Regions from separate parts of the Homo sapiens genome. Here all the other regions are linked to region 3. The links come from fine-mapping of genetic effects on gene expression. A gene starts in region 3. Each other region holds a variant in brackets. All regions are shown on one strand. Distances are between the middles of the regions.

Region 1 (4,104 bases), 170 kb after region 3:
CATGAAGGGATGTTGAATTTCATCAGATGCTTTTTCAGCAGCAACTGAAATTATCACAAAGGTTTTTGTCCTTTATTTTGTTGACAAAAATGTATCACATTGATTGATTTGTGTATGTTGAATCATCCTTGAATCCCTGGGATAAATCTCCCTTGGTCATGGTGAGTGATATTTCTAATGCATTGTTGAATTTGGTTTGCTAGTATTTTGTCGAGGATTTTTGCATCAATGTTCATCAGGAATATTGGCCTGTAGTTTTCTTTTTGTTGATGTCTTTTATTTTGATATTAGGGTAATATTGGCCTCATAGAATGAGTTTGGAAATACTTCCTCCTCTGTTTTTCAGAATAGTTTCAGAAGGATTGGTATTAGTTCTTTAAATGTTTGGTAGAATTTAGCAATGAAGCCATTGGGTCCTGGGCCTTTCTTTGGTGACAGACTTTTTATTACAGCTTTATTCTTGTTATATGTTACTGGTCTGTTCAGGTTTTGCATTTCTTCATGATTAAATCTTAATAGATTTTATGTGTCTAGGAGTTTATCCGTTTCTTCTAGGTTTTCCAGTTTATTGGCATATAGTTGTTCATAGTAGCCGCTCTGTTGATCTTTTAATTTCTGCTGTATCGGTTTTTAATGTCTCCTCTTTCATTTCTGATTTTATTTGAGTCTTGTTTCTTTTTTTCTTAGTGGCCAAAGGTTTGTCAATTTTATCTTTTTTAAAAAATCAATTTTTTGTTTCATGTGCCAATTTTTCATTTCATTGATCTTTTGTATTTTTGCCATTTCAGTTTTATTCATTTCTGCTCTGATCTTTATTATTTTTATTCTGCTTACTTTGGGTTTGGTTTGCTCTTGCTTTTCTGGTTCTTTAAGATGCATTGTTAGGTTGTTTACTTGACGTTTTTCTGCTTTTTTGATGTAGGTGCTTATAGCTATAAACTTCCCTCTTAGTACTGCTTTCACTGTATCCTATAGGTTTGGGTATGTTGTGTTTCCATTATCATTTGTTTCCAGAAACTTTCAGTTTTTTTCTTAATCTCTTCATTGACCCACAGATCATTCAGGAAGATATTGTTTAATTTCTTTTTTTTTTTTTTCTTTTGAGACAGAGTCTCAGCCTCTCGCCCAGGCTGAACTGCAGTGGTGCAATCTTGACTCACTGCAAGCTCTGCCTCCCAGGTTCACACCATTCTCCTGCCTCAGCCTCCCGAGTAGCTGGGACTACAGGTGCCCGCCACCACGCCCGACTAATTTTTTGTATTTTTAGTAGAGACGGGGTTTCACCGTCTTAGCCAGGATGGTCTCAATCTCCTGACCTCATGATCCGCCCACCTCGGCCTCCGAAAGTGCTGGGATTACAGGCACGAGCCACCGCACCTGGCCAATATTGTTTAATTCCTAAGTGTTTGTATAGTTTCCAAAATTCCTCTTATTTTTTATTTCTAGTTTTATTCCATTGGGGTCAGAGAAGATACTTAATATTATTTCAATTTTTAAAAATATGTTAAGACTTATTTTTTGGCCTAACATATGGTCTGTCCTTTAGAATGTTACAGATGCTGAGGAGAAAAATGTGCATTCCACAGCCATTGGATGAAATGTTCTGTAAATATCCATTTGGTCCATACTGCACATTAAGTCCAATGTCTCTGTTGATTTTCTGTCTGGATGAAATGTCCAATGCTGAAAGTGTGGTGTTTAAGTCTTCAGCTATTATTGTATTGGCATATATCTCTCTCTTTAGCTCTAATAATATTTGCTTTATATATCAGGGTGCTCCAGTGTTGAGTGCATATATATTTATAATTGTTTTATCCTCTTGCTGAATTAATCCCTTTATCATCACATAATGACCTTTTTTGTCTTGAAATCTATTTTGTCTGATGCAAGTGTAACTACTTCTGCTTTTTTTGGTTTCCATTTGCATAGAACATCTTCATCCCTTTATTTTCACTATATGTGTGTCTTTATAGGCAAAGTGTGTTTCTTGTAGGCAACAGATCGTTGGGTTTTATTTTTTTAATCTGTTCAGCCACTCTCT[CTT/T]TTGATTGAGTTTAGTCTATTTACATTCAGTGGTTTTTATTTTTTATTCTTTTTTTTTCTTTCTTTCTTTTTGAGACAGAGTCTTGCTCTGTCACCCAGGCTGGAGTGCAGCGGCGCAATCTCAGCTCACTGCAACCTCTACCTCCTGGGTTCAAACGATTCACCTGCCTCAGCCTTCCAACTAGCTGGGACTACAAGCACACACCACCACACCCAGCTAATTTTTTGGTTTTTTAGTAGAGATAGGATTTCACCATGCAGGCCAGGCTGGTCTCAAACTCGTGACCTCAGGTGATCTGCTTACCTCAGCCTCCCAGAGTGTTGGGATTACAGGTGTGAGCCGCCGTGCCCAGCCTCAGTGGTATTATTGATAAGTAGGTACTTACTCCTTCCACTTTATTATTTATTTTCTTGTTGTTTTTCAGGCTTCTCATCCTTCTTTCCTTCCTTCCTGTTTTCCTTTTAGTGAAGGTGATTTTCTCTGGTATTATGGTTTTGTTTCTTGCTTTTTATTTTTTTTATATCCATTGTATGTGTTTATATTGGAGGTTACCATAAGGCTTGCAAGTAATATCTTATAACCCATTATTTTAAACTAATGCCAACTTGACACTGACTGCATAAACAACAAGCAAAAAGAAAATTAATAACAACTCTACATATTAACTTAATCCCCCTGCTTTTTAACTTTTTATTCTTTCTATTTATATCTTATTGTACTGTCCATGTCTTGAAAAGTTGTTGTTATTATTTTTTATTGGTTCATCTTTTCATCTTTCTACTTCAATATGAGTAGTTTACACACCACAATTACAGCGTTATAGTATTCTGTGGTTTTCTGTTTACTTACTATCACCAGTGAGTTTTGGACCTTCAGATAATTTCTTACTGCTCATTAACATTCTTTTCTTTCAGACTGAAGAAATCCCTTTAGCATTTCTTGTGGGACAGATTTGGTGTTGATGAAATCCCTCAGCTTTTGTTTGTCTGGGAAAGTCTGTATTTCTTCTCCATGTTCGAAGGATATTTTCACTGGATATATTATTTTAGAATAAGTTTTTTTTCCTTTAGCACTTTAAATATGTCATGCCATTCTCTCCTGGCCTGTAAGATTTCTACTGAGAAGTCTGCTTCCAAATGTATTGGAGCTCCATTGTATGTTATTTGTTTCTTTTATCTTGCTGCTTTTATAATCCTTTTATCCTTGACCTTTGAGAGTTTGATTATTAAATGTCTTAAGGTAGTCATATTTGGATAAAATCTGCTTAGTGTTCTATAACCTACTTGTACTTGAGTGTTCATATCTTTCTCTGGGTTTGGGAAGTTCTATGTTTTTATCCTTCTTAATAAACTTTATATCCCAATCTATCTCCTCTTTAAAGCCAATAACTCTAGATTTACCCTTTTGATGCTCTTTTCTAGTTCTTATAGGTGTGTTTTATTCTTTTTTCTTCTTTTTTCTTTTGTCGCCTCTGACTGTGTATTTTCAAATAGCTTGTCTTCAGCCTCACCAATTCTTTTTTCTGCATTATCCGTTCTGCCATTAAAAGAACTCTGATGCATTCTTCAGTACACTAGTTGCATTTTTCAGCTCCAGAATTTCTACTTGGTTCTTTTTAGTTATTTCAATCTCTTTGTTAAATTTATCTCATAGGATTCTGAATTTCTTCTCTGTGTTATCTTGAATTTCATTGAGCTTCTTCAAAACAGCTGTTTTGAATTCTCTGTCAGGTGACATCTCTGTCTCTCTGGGATTGGTCATTGGTGCCTTATTTAATTCATTTGGTGAGGTCATGTTTTCCTGGATGGTCTTGATGTTTGTTGATGTTCATTGGTGTGTGGGCATTGAAGAGTTAGGTATTTATCATAGTCTTCGCAGTCTGGGTTTGTTTGTCTTCTCCCCCTAAGCATTACCTTTCCTATGTGTACTTCTACATCCTTTCTTTTTACTCACTACTCTGATCTACCAGTATACTTTTTTAATATTCTCACACTTAAGGTGGACTTTTTCTTTCTGGCATGGTTTTAGATCAGTCTTAGATTCACAGCAAGTTCCCATCT
Region 2 (4,104 bases), 160 kb after region 3:
TTGACATTTTAAAGAATACAGTCTAGTTACTGTATAAAATGTCCTGCGTTTTGGCTTTGTGTTTCATCATGATTAGGTTTGTTATTATTGGATTTAAATTAGGCGTATTTGGCAGGAATACCTCAGAAGATTTTGTGCACCTCTTAATACATTATATCAGGTGTCACAGATGTCAGTTTGTTTCATTACTGATTGGTGCTAACTTCAGTCAAATGATTAAGGTTGTGTCTGCCAGGTGTTCCCACTGTAAAGCTACTGTTTAATCCTTTTCAATGAATTAGTATTTGTAAGACAATACTTTGAGACTATACTATATAAATATTTGACTCCTTAAATTTCCACTAACTGGTTTTGCTAATCATTAATGACTCTTACCAGAAACAATTATTGTTACAGTAGCTGCCAAATGATGATTTCCTAATTCATCATTTTTTCTACATTCATTAGTTAGCTTTCTACGTATAAGGAAGAGCTTTCCTTTCTTTCTTATTCATCTTATTTCAATGTGGGCTCATGATTCTGATTTTATGCAATGATTTGTAATCCTTAACTATTATTTATTTTGGTGCTCAAAATGTCTCATACTTAGCCAGTGGGAGCCCCTTCAAAGTGGCTTCTTTTTCATAAATCCCCATTATTTTGGGGGCATGCTTTTAATTTCTGTCAGCACACAATTTTCCAGACTCACTTTGTGCTTTCCCTGTCCCAGCCCTGAAATTACCCATTTCTCCAAGAAACCCTGCTTCCGTTAAGTGGCAAATGGTGTTTAGAAATCAGTATCTAAGAACTAGGCATGCACATTGCTACTGGGATATCTTTTTTTTTTTTTTTTTTGGAGATGGAGTCTCGCTCTGTCGCCCAGGCTGGAGTGCCCCGGCGCGATCTCGGCTCACTGCAAGCTCCGCCTCCCGGGTTCACGCCATTCTCCTGCCCAGCCTCCCGAGTAGCTGGGACTACAGGCGCCCGCCACCACGCCTGGCTAATTTTTTTGTATTTTTAGTAGAGACGGGGTTTCACCGTGTTAGCCAGGATGGTCTCGATCTCCTGACCTCGTGATCTGCCTGTCTCAGCCTCCCAAAGTGGTGGGATTACAGGCGTGAGCCATTGCGCCCGGCCTGGGGTATCGTTTCTTAAGTCCTCTTTGGCAGATACAGCTAGGAAATACATAACATATACACACACACACACACACACACACACACACACACACACACACACCCATCTCTATATCTGCTATAGACTGAATGTTTGTGTCTCTCCCGAAGTTCATATATGGAAATCCTAATGCCCAGTGTCATGGGATTTGGAGGTGGGGCCTTTGAGAGGTAATTAGGTCGTGAGGATGAAGCCCTCATCAATGGGATTAGTGCCCTTATAAGAAGAGAGATGAACTAATATCCACCGTGTGAAGATACACTAGAAGGTGGTCATCTAACAAGCCAGAAAGAGGACCCTCACATATACTGAATTGGCTGCCACCTTGATCTTCAACTTTCTAGCTTTCAGAACTGTGAGGAATAAATTTCTCTTGTTTAAGCCACCCAGTGTAAAGTATTTGTAATGCCAGCACAGACAGAATAAGATGGTATCTAATTATAAGTATTAAAAACCTTGAGTTCACACTGACACCTCCAATTCTTATTTTATTTTATTTTACTTTAAGTTCCAGGATACATGTGCAGAATGTGCAGGTTTGTTACATGGGTAGACAAGTGCCATGGTGTTTTGCTGCACCTGTCAACC[C/T]GTCACCACATGCATTAGCTGTTTGTCCTGATGCTCTCCCTCACCTTCCCCCACCAACAGGCCCCAGTCTGACACCTCCACGTCTAATCCAACACCACGAGATTCAGTCCATCCTTCCCCGTTTTCCTTATTTGTAACTCCCTGCTCCAGCAATGAAAAATCTGGTTTCCATATTGATTATTTATCTGGATATGTTTACTTCTTTGTGCTGTTCTATTTTTTTAAATTATTAACTTATGCCTCTTTATAGTTAAGAGTGCTTGTCTTTACCAAGAGAGATTATTGTTTGAAAAATGTGTTCATAAGTTATTTGGGTTACTTCGTAGTCCCCCTTTCCCACTTCAGTATGGTTATATAATTACCTTGAAATTCAGTTCAGGTCACTTTTTTCTGTTTGTATGCAGTTTTAGGGTCTTTGTCCCATCTCTGTTGTTTTAATTTTTTTAGTCTATGGTTCATCCATCCTATGATTGTTTTTTCACAAATGAACAGATGCATGTATATCGTCTTTTATTCCTTGTTTGTTACACATAGCCTAGATAGTCTTTGCTTTGGATTTTTCACTTGACAGTGTATCTTGGAAATCCTTAATACGTAAGTTCATAGAGATCTTCCCCATCTTTTTATTTATTGAAAATTGTTCTGGGTACATAGTAGGTGTATATATTTATGGAGTGCATGGGATATTTTGACAGAGACATACAGTGCATAATATGTCAGGATAAATGGGGTATCCTTCCCCTCAAGCACTTATCCTTTCTGTGTGTTACAAAATAATCCAATTATATGTTTTTAGTTATTTTTAAATGTACAATTCAGTTATTTTTTACTATAGTCACTCTGTTTTGCTAGCAAATATTATATTTTATTCATTCTTTCTATTTTTTAGAACCCATTAACCATCCCCACTTACCCCATACTCCCCACTGCCCTTCCCAGTCTCTGGTAACCATCATTCTATTCTCTGTCTCCATGAGTTCAGTTGTTTTCATATTTATCTCCCACAGATAAGTGAGAGCATGCAATGTTTGTCTTTCTGTGCCTGGCTTATTTCACTTAACATAATGACTTCCAGTTCCATCTATCTTGTTGCAAATGACAAGATCTCATTCTTCTTTATGGCTGAATAGTACTCCCTTGCATATATGTACCACTTTTCTTTATCCATTCATCTGTTGATGGACACTTAGGTTGGTCCCAAATTTTGGCTATTGTAAATAATACTGCAGTAAACATGGGAATGTAGGTATCTCTTAGATATGCTGATTTCCTTTCATTTGGGTATATACCTAGCAGTAGGATTACTGGATCATATAGTAGTTATCTTTGTTAGTTTTTTGAGGAACCTCGAAACTGTTCTCCATAGTGGTTGTACTAACATAAATTCCCACCAACAGTGTATGAGGGTTCCCTTTTCTCCACATCCTCGCCAGCATTTATTGCCTGTCTTTTGGATAAACCCATTTTATTTTATTTATTTTATTATTATTATTATACTTTAAGTTCTAGGGTACATGTGCACAATGTGCAGGTTTGTTACATATGTATACATGTGCCATGTTAGTGTGCTGCACCCATTAACTCGTCATTTACATTAGGTATATTTCCTAATGCTATCCCTCCCGCCTCCCCCCACCCCTCGAAAGGCCCTGGTGTGTGATGTTTCCCATCCTGTGTCTAAGTGTTCTCATTGTTCAATTCCCACCTATGAATGAGAACTTGCGGTGTTTGGTTTTCTGTCCTTGCGACAGTTTGCTCAGAATGATGGTTTCCAGCTTTATCCATGTCCCTACAAAGGACATGAACTCATCCTTTTTATGGCTGCATAGTATTCCATGGTGTATATTTGCCACATTTTCTTAATCTAGTCTATCATTGATGGACACTTGAGTTGGTTCCAAGTCTTTGCTATCGTGAATAGTGCCACAGTAAACATACACGTGCATATGTCCTTATAGCAGCATGACTTATAATCCTTTGGGTATATACCCAGTAATTAGATGGCTGGGTCAAATGGTATTTCTAGTTCTAGATCCTTGAGGAATTGCCACACTGTCTTCCACAATGGTTGAACTAGTTTACACTCCAACCATGTAAAAGTGTTCCTGTTTCTCCACATCCTCTCCAGCACCTGTTGTTTCCTGACTTTTTAATGATCACCATTCTAACTGGTGTGAGATGGTATCTCATTGTGGGATAAAACCCGTTTTAACTGAGGTGAGATGATATCTCATTGTATTTAGTAGTTTTGATTTGCATTTCTCTGATGATGTTGAGCATCTTTTCATAAGTTCATATGTGTTCATATGAACTTGTTTTCATATAGTCATATGAACATATTAACTTGTTTTCCTTTTTTAT
Region 3 (4,104 bases):
TGTCACTCATTTGCCAAACATTTACTGAGTACTTGCGCAAGAGAAAGGAAGGGACAGTGACATTCGTTCTTCTATTCGACACAGATTTATTGAGCCTATCTTGCAAAGAGCACTTTGCAAGAAGACTGGGATACAACTTTAGACAATCTATACAGTCTCTGTCCTCAGGGAGTTTACAGTCTCATGAAAGAGAGAATCTGTAAACAGTTACACAAATTACTGTATTTAAATTCTATGAAGGAAAGGAATGTTATGAGATGTGTCATTATAGATGTAACTTTCAATACTTTTCTCACCTAATTATCACAATCACTGATGTAGTTTACAAATGAGGAAAATCAGGCTGAGACTGAACTACATGCCAAGGGCCCGAGAGCAAGTAAGTCCTTGCAAGTGAAAAACAGAATGTCTAATTTAGGTCTATGTAATTCTAAAGATCATGCTTGAAAACATTGTATTATTGCCTAAATTTCACGAAACTGTGAGGGACAGACCTTATTTTGATTTTATTAATAAGAAAACTGATGCTGAGAGGAACTAGAACTAAAATCTCTTGAACAATCCCCTTATTTTTCTATTATGTTATAAGCTTCCTCAAAACATGTATGGCTTGTAAGTTTGATGATACAAACAAACCCTACATGTAGAAACTGAATAAATTTTTTGTACTTTAAAAAATATAGGATTGTTGTTGAAACAAACTACCATTAAGCAAAGCACTATATTTTAACATAATTTTGGCAAATGTCTTACATCTCTCTTCTTTGCTGATTTTGTTATTTTTCTATGTTAATCACATATTTCATTGGACAAGTCTATTGCTATGGGTGAGAACATAGAAGGAAACAGTTCAAACAAGCAAACTCACTCTTTATCAAATTATTTTGTGGAGGAAATGTTCCTGGCCAGGCGCAGTGGCCTCACGCCTGTAATCCCAGCAGTTTGGTAGGCTGAGGCGGGCGGATCACTTGAGTCTAGGAGTTTTAGACCAGTTTGGGCAAAATGGCGAAACCCCGTCTCTACAAAAAACACAAAAATTAGCTGGATGTGGTGGCGCGCACCTGTGGTCCCAGCTACTCGGTAGGCTGAGGTGGGAGCATCACCTGAGCCTGGGAGTTCGAGGCTTCAGTGAGCTGAGATCACACCACTGCACTTCTGCCTGGGACACAGAGACCCTGTCTGGAAAGAAAAGGAAAAAGGAAAAAAAAAAAAAGGGTTCCAATAAAAATTTCAATTTATGTCATTCAGAATTTCACGGATTTTTTTCAGCTATTGCAGATTCTTCAGATGACTCCATCAATGTAATAAGAACCTTGAATTCTTCTTTGCAGAGGAAAAACTGACAATATATTCATCTTTATGTGGGGTGCAGATGGGGAAAAGATTTTTAAAAGCACAATAGAAAAGGAAAGCAAGATTACTTTTATTTAAAAAACCTAGATACCTCTGCTTAAGCCTTTCTGTTGTCAAGTTGTTTGCAGCAAAAAACAGGGATATTGCAAATAGAAAAAATATGAAAGAAATCACATACATAGTGCAGGAAATATTATTAGTAATAGATTTAGGACAGAATAAATTGCCCAACTGTAACTTCGTTTATCTTTCTGCTAGAGGATCTGGTGGCCACAACAACTTATGCACATTTTCAAAGATAAATCATGGACATATTTAATAAAGATTACTTCTCTTTGCTTATTACTATCATTTGGCTTACAATGGAGCACGCAGTAACTACCTTCCTTGCCTTTCTTGAGATTCTCCTTTGGCTGCTTACACAGGAAACCAAGGCGGGGAGTGCCACGGGTGATCTCATGCTGGCATGACGTCAAGAACTCTTGACGTCAGAAGGCGGTTGCCACGGACACCGTTCGCCACCGACGGCAGAGTCGTGAAACCCCATCACTACCACACTCGTCTCCGTTTCGGCCTCTGCAGGGTGTAAGCTGCTAAAGAAGCTTCAACCTTAAGGGGGCCTCAGGGAGAGAGTTGTGCTCCTGCCGCCGAGAGCTCCACCTTCGTGGCTCTGGGTCCGGGGCCCCGGCCTGTGGCGGCGAGCGGCGGCCGCTGGAGACGAGCGGCGGCGGCAGGCGGCCAGCCCGGGTCTGCCTCGCTCCGTGCAGGGCCGGGAGAGGGATCCGCCATATTGGAGCTGGGGCCGAAGGTGCCTTGGAGCCGCGGCGCGAGGCGGGTGGAGGTGGCGGCCCTGGCCTGGATCGGGAAGGAGTCGGCTCTGCCCTGGCCCGCAAGGCTGGGGAGCTAATGAGCCTCTCTGGCTAGTCTCCTCCCCGTCCACTCCCTCCACTTTCTGCCGCCGGGACCCGGCTGGGAGCCGGCTGTGGCAGTGGCAGTGGCAGTGGCAGCGACAGGATGTTCTCCAAGAAGCCGCACGGGGACGTGAAGAAGTCCACCCAGAAGGTGCTAGACACCAAGAAGGACGCACTGACTCGCCTCAAGCACCTGCGCATCGTCATCGGTGAGGAGCGAGGGGTGGCAGCGCCGAGGCCTGGGTTGCCCGGCCTTCCCTCTCCTGGGAGCCCCTGCGGACTCTCTCTCGGGACCTGGCGCGGTGCAGGAGAGGGCAAATCGTAGCCTCTGCGGAGACGCGGGAGGGTGAATAATTCGGAGAAGCGAAAACTTGGCAGTTGGCAGCACTGATTACTGTTAACACAGTAATCTAATTTTGAGTTAATAGTCTGAACTTATTTTTTAAAATTGGTATTACTCTAAAAACTTAGATCTTTAAGACTTTGTGGGGAGACCTGGCGTTGTGGATAATGGTGTTTATAGGATATGTTTGCCAGATGACTACTGCCAACCCCACCCAAGTAAAAAGAAAAATAAAATCCTCTCTCAGACAATATAAACCTTAATCTTTCAAGTTTCTTGGCAGATGAAGACAAGGAGGTAGCAGTTACACCTCTTTGGGAAGTGGGCGGTTCCCAAAAAGCTGTGGGAAGGAGCCCCGCCCTTTTGTTAATGCACCTTGTTCATCACTAGTCATTTAGAGGGAGAACTATTATAGGTAGTTTAACTCATCCTTTGCTTCTCGAGAATTGTATATAATTCTATTTTTAATTAAAAATATTTTTTTTATCGTCTGCCCTTAAGTTCTGTTTTGCTGGTAGACCAAACAGTGCTCTAAGTTTTGAATATAATGTTAATCGACTCTTTTGAATACTTAGTCATTTGGTAGGCTGATAAAGGCTGTAATAATACTTATGGAACATCTGGTCCAGTAGTTGGATTTTTTAGATGAAGACATTTGAGATGAAAAGGAAAATTATTTCGCCTGTGTTGATACTTAGAGTTAATGGTGGAACTGGCTGAAGAAGATGCATTCATCCAGATGCCTGAATCCTAGTTCAGAGTTTATCTCGAGCTGTCCTCCTGATGCGTATTTGTTTTGGAAAGTGATGTTTATTTAGTGAAAAAAGTAAGTCCCTTATTTGAGGTACATGTTTCTCTAGTCTATTGTTTACTCATACCACCAGGATACCACCAATATTACCCAACATTTCTATGATGCTTTACTGTTTACAGTGATTTCACGTAAATTATGATAATCCTTGCAATAACTCTATAGGTAGATGATATTATTCTCCATTTTTTACCAACAAAAAAGCTGAAGTTTGGGAACATCGAGTAGTCAGCCAGCTACCAGGAGGCTGAGTCAGAATTGGAACCCAGATTTTGTGTCTCTAGTTTGTTTTTTTACTCTTTCTACATTTATGACAGCTAATCTTTGTCACAAGTAAATTGTATTTATTCCAGTGGAGTAGTAAGAAAGCAGTTAATCCAGTTTAGCGCTATAAAAAGCTCAGTTTTCAAGAAAATGTAAAGCTTCTAAATATAGTGGAGATTGTGATCTTTTTGTTTTCATTCTTCTTGAGAGTTAAGCCATTGAAATAAAGATTTAGCCGAGAATAGGACACAGTAAGTTAATGTGTGAATGCAGGCGAGGGATTCACAGGTAATGGCAGTTTGAAATTGAACACTTAATGGAGCTTGACACCTACTTGGGATAAGCTGTAGGTTAGGTAATGACACAGCTATAAAGTTGAGTTCCAATAAAGTATCGAGATTTCCTAAATTAAAGGCCATACT

Alleles and levels. Positions count from the first base shown, and alleles are read on the strand shown. Sizes are in standard deviations (SD) of each study's normalised expression.
With allele CTT in place of T in region 1, the expression in stomach of the gene that starts at base 1,908 in region 3 is lower (large effect, 1.1 SD a copy in GTEx).
For the expression in gastroesophageal junction of the gene that starts at base 1,908 in region 3, allele C in region 2 goes with a lower level than allele T (large effect, 0.94 SD a copy in GTEx).

What was found. PIP is the estimated chance that this variant, and not a neighbour inherited with it, causes the effect. A credible set is the group of variants that fine-mapping cannot tell apart.
Region 1: its variant is the best candidate, but not a certain one, in a credible set for the expression of RALGAPA1 in stomach (GTEx, PIP 0.72).
Region 2: its variant is the best candidate, but not a certain one, in a credible set for the expression of RALGAPA1 in gastroesophageal junction (GTEx, PIP 0.83).

The regions. Positions count from the first base shown.
Region 1 is chr14:35,636,937-35,641,040 of GRCh38, reverse strand. The region is part of intron 31 of RALGAPA1 (Ral GTPase activating protein catalytic subunit alpha 1); the gene reads left to right. Among named protein-coding and RNA genes, the nearest start is that of INSM2, 100 kb to the right of the region's middle. The variant CTT/T (reference allele first, on the strand shown) is at 2,042.
Region 2 is chr14:35,642,461-35,646,564 of GRCh38, reverse strand. All of the region lies in intron 31 of RALGAPA1 (Ral GTPase activating protein catalytic subunit alpha 1), which reads left to right. Among named protein-coding and RNA genes, the nearest start is that of INSM2, 110 kb to the right of the region's middle. The variant C/T (reference allele first, on the strand shown) is at 1,744.
Region 3 is chr14:35,807,099-35,811,202 of GRCh38, reverse strand. RALGAPA1 (Ral GTPase activating protein catalytic subunit alpha 1) reads left to right here and starts at 1,908. Exons shown (of 42, transcript NM_001346249.2): 1 at 1,908-2,473. The coding sequence starts at 2,368. RefSeq lists enhancers at 1,762-1,861, 1,698-2,258 and a silencer at 1,942-2,181.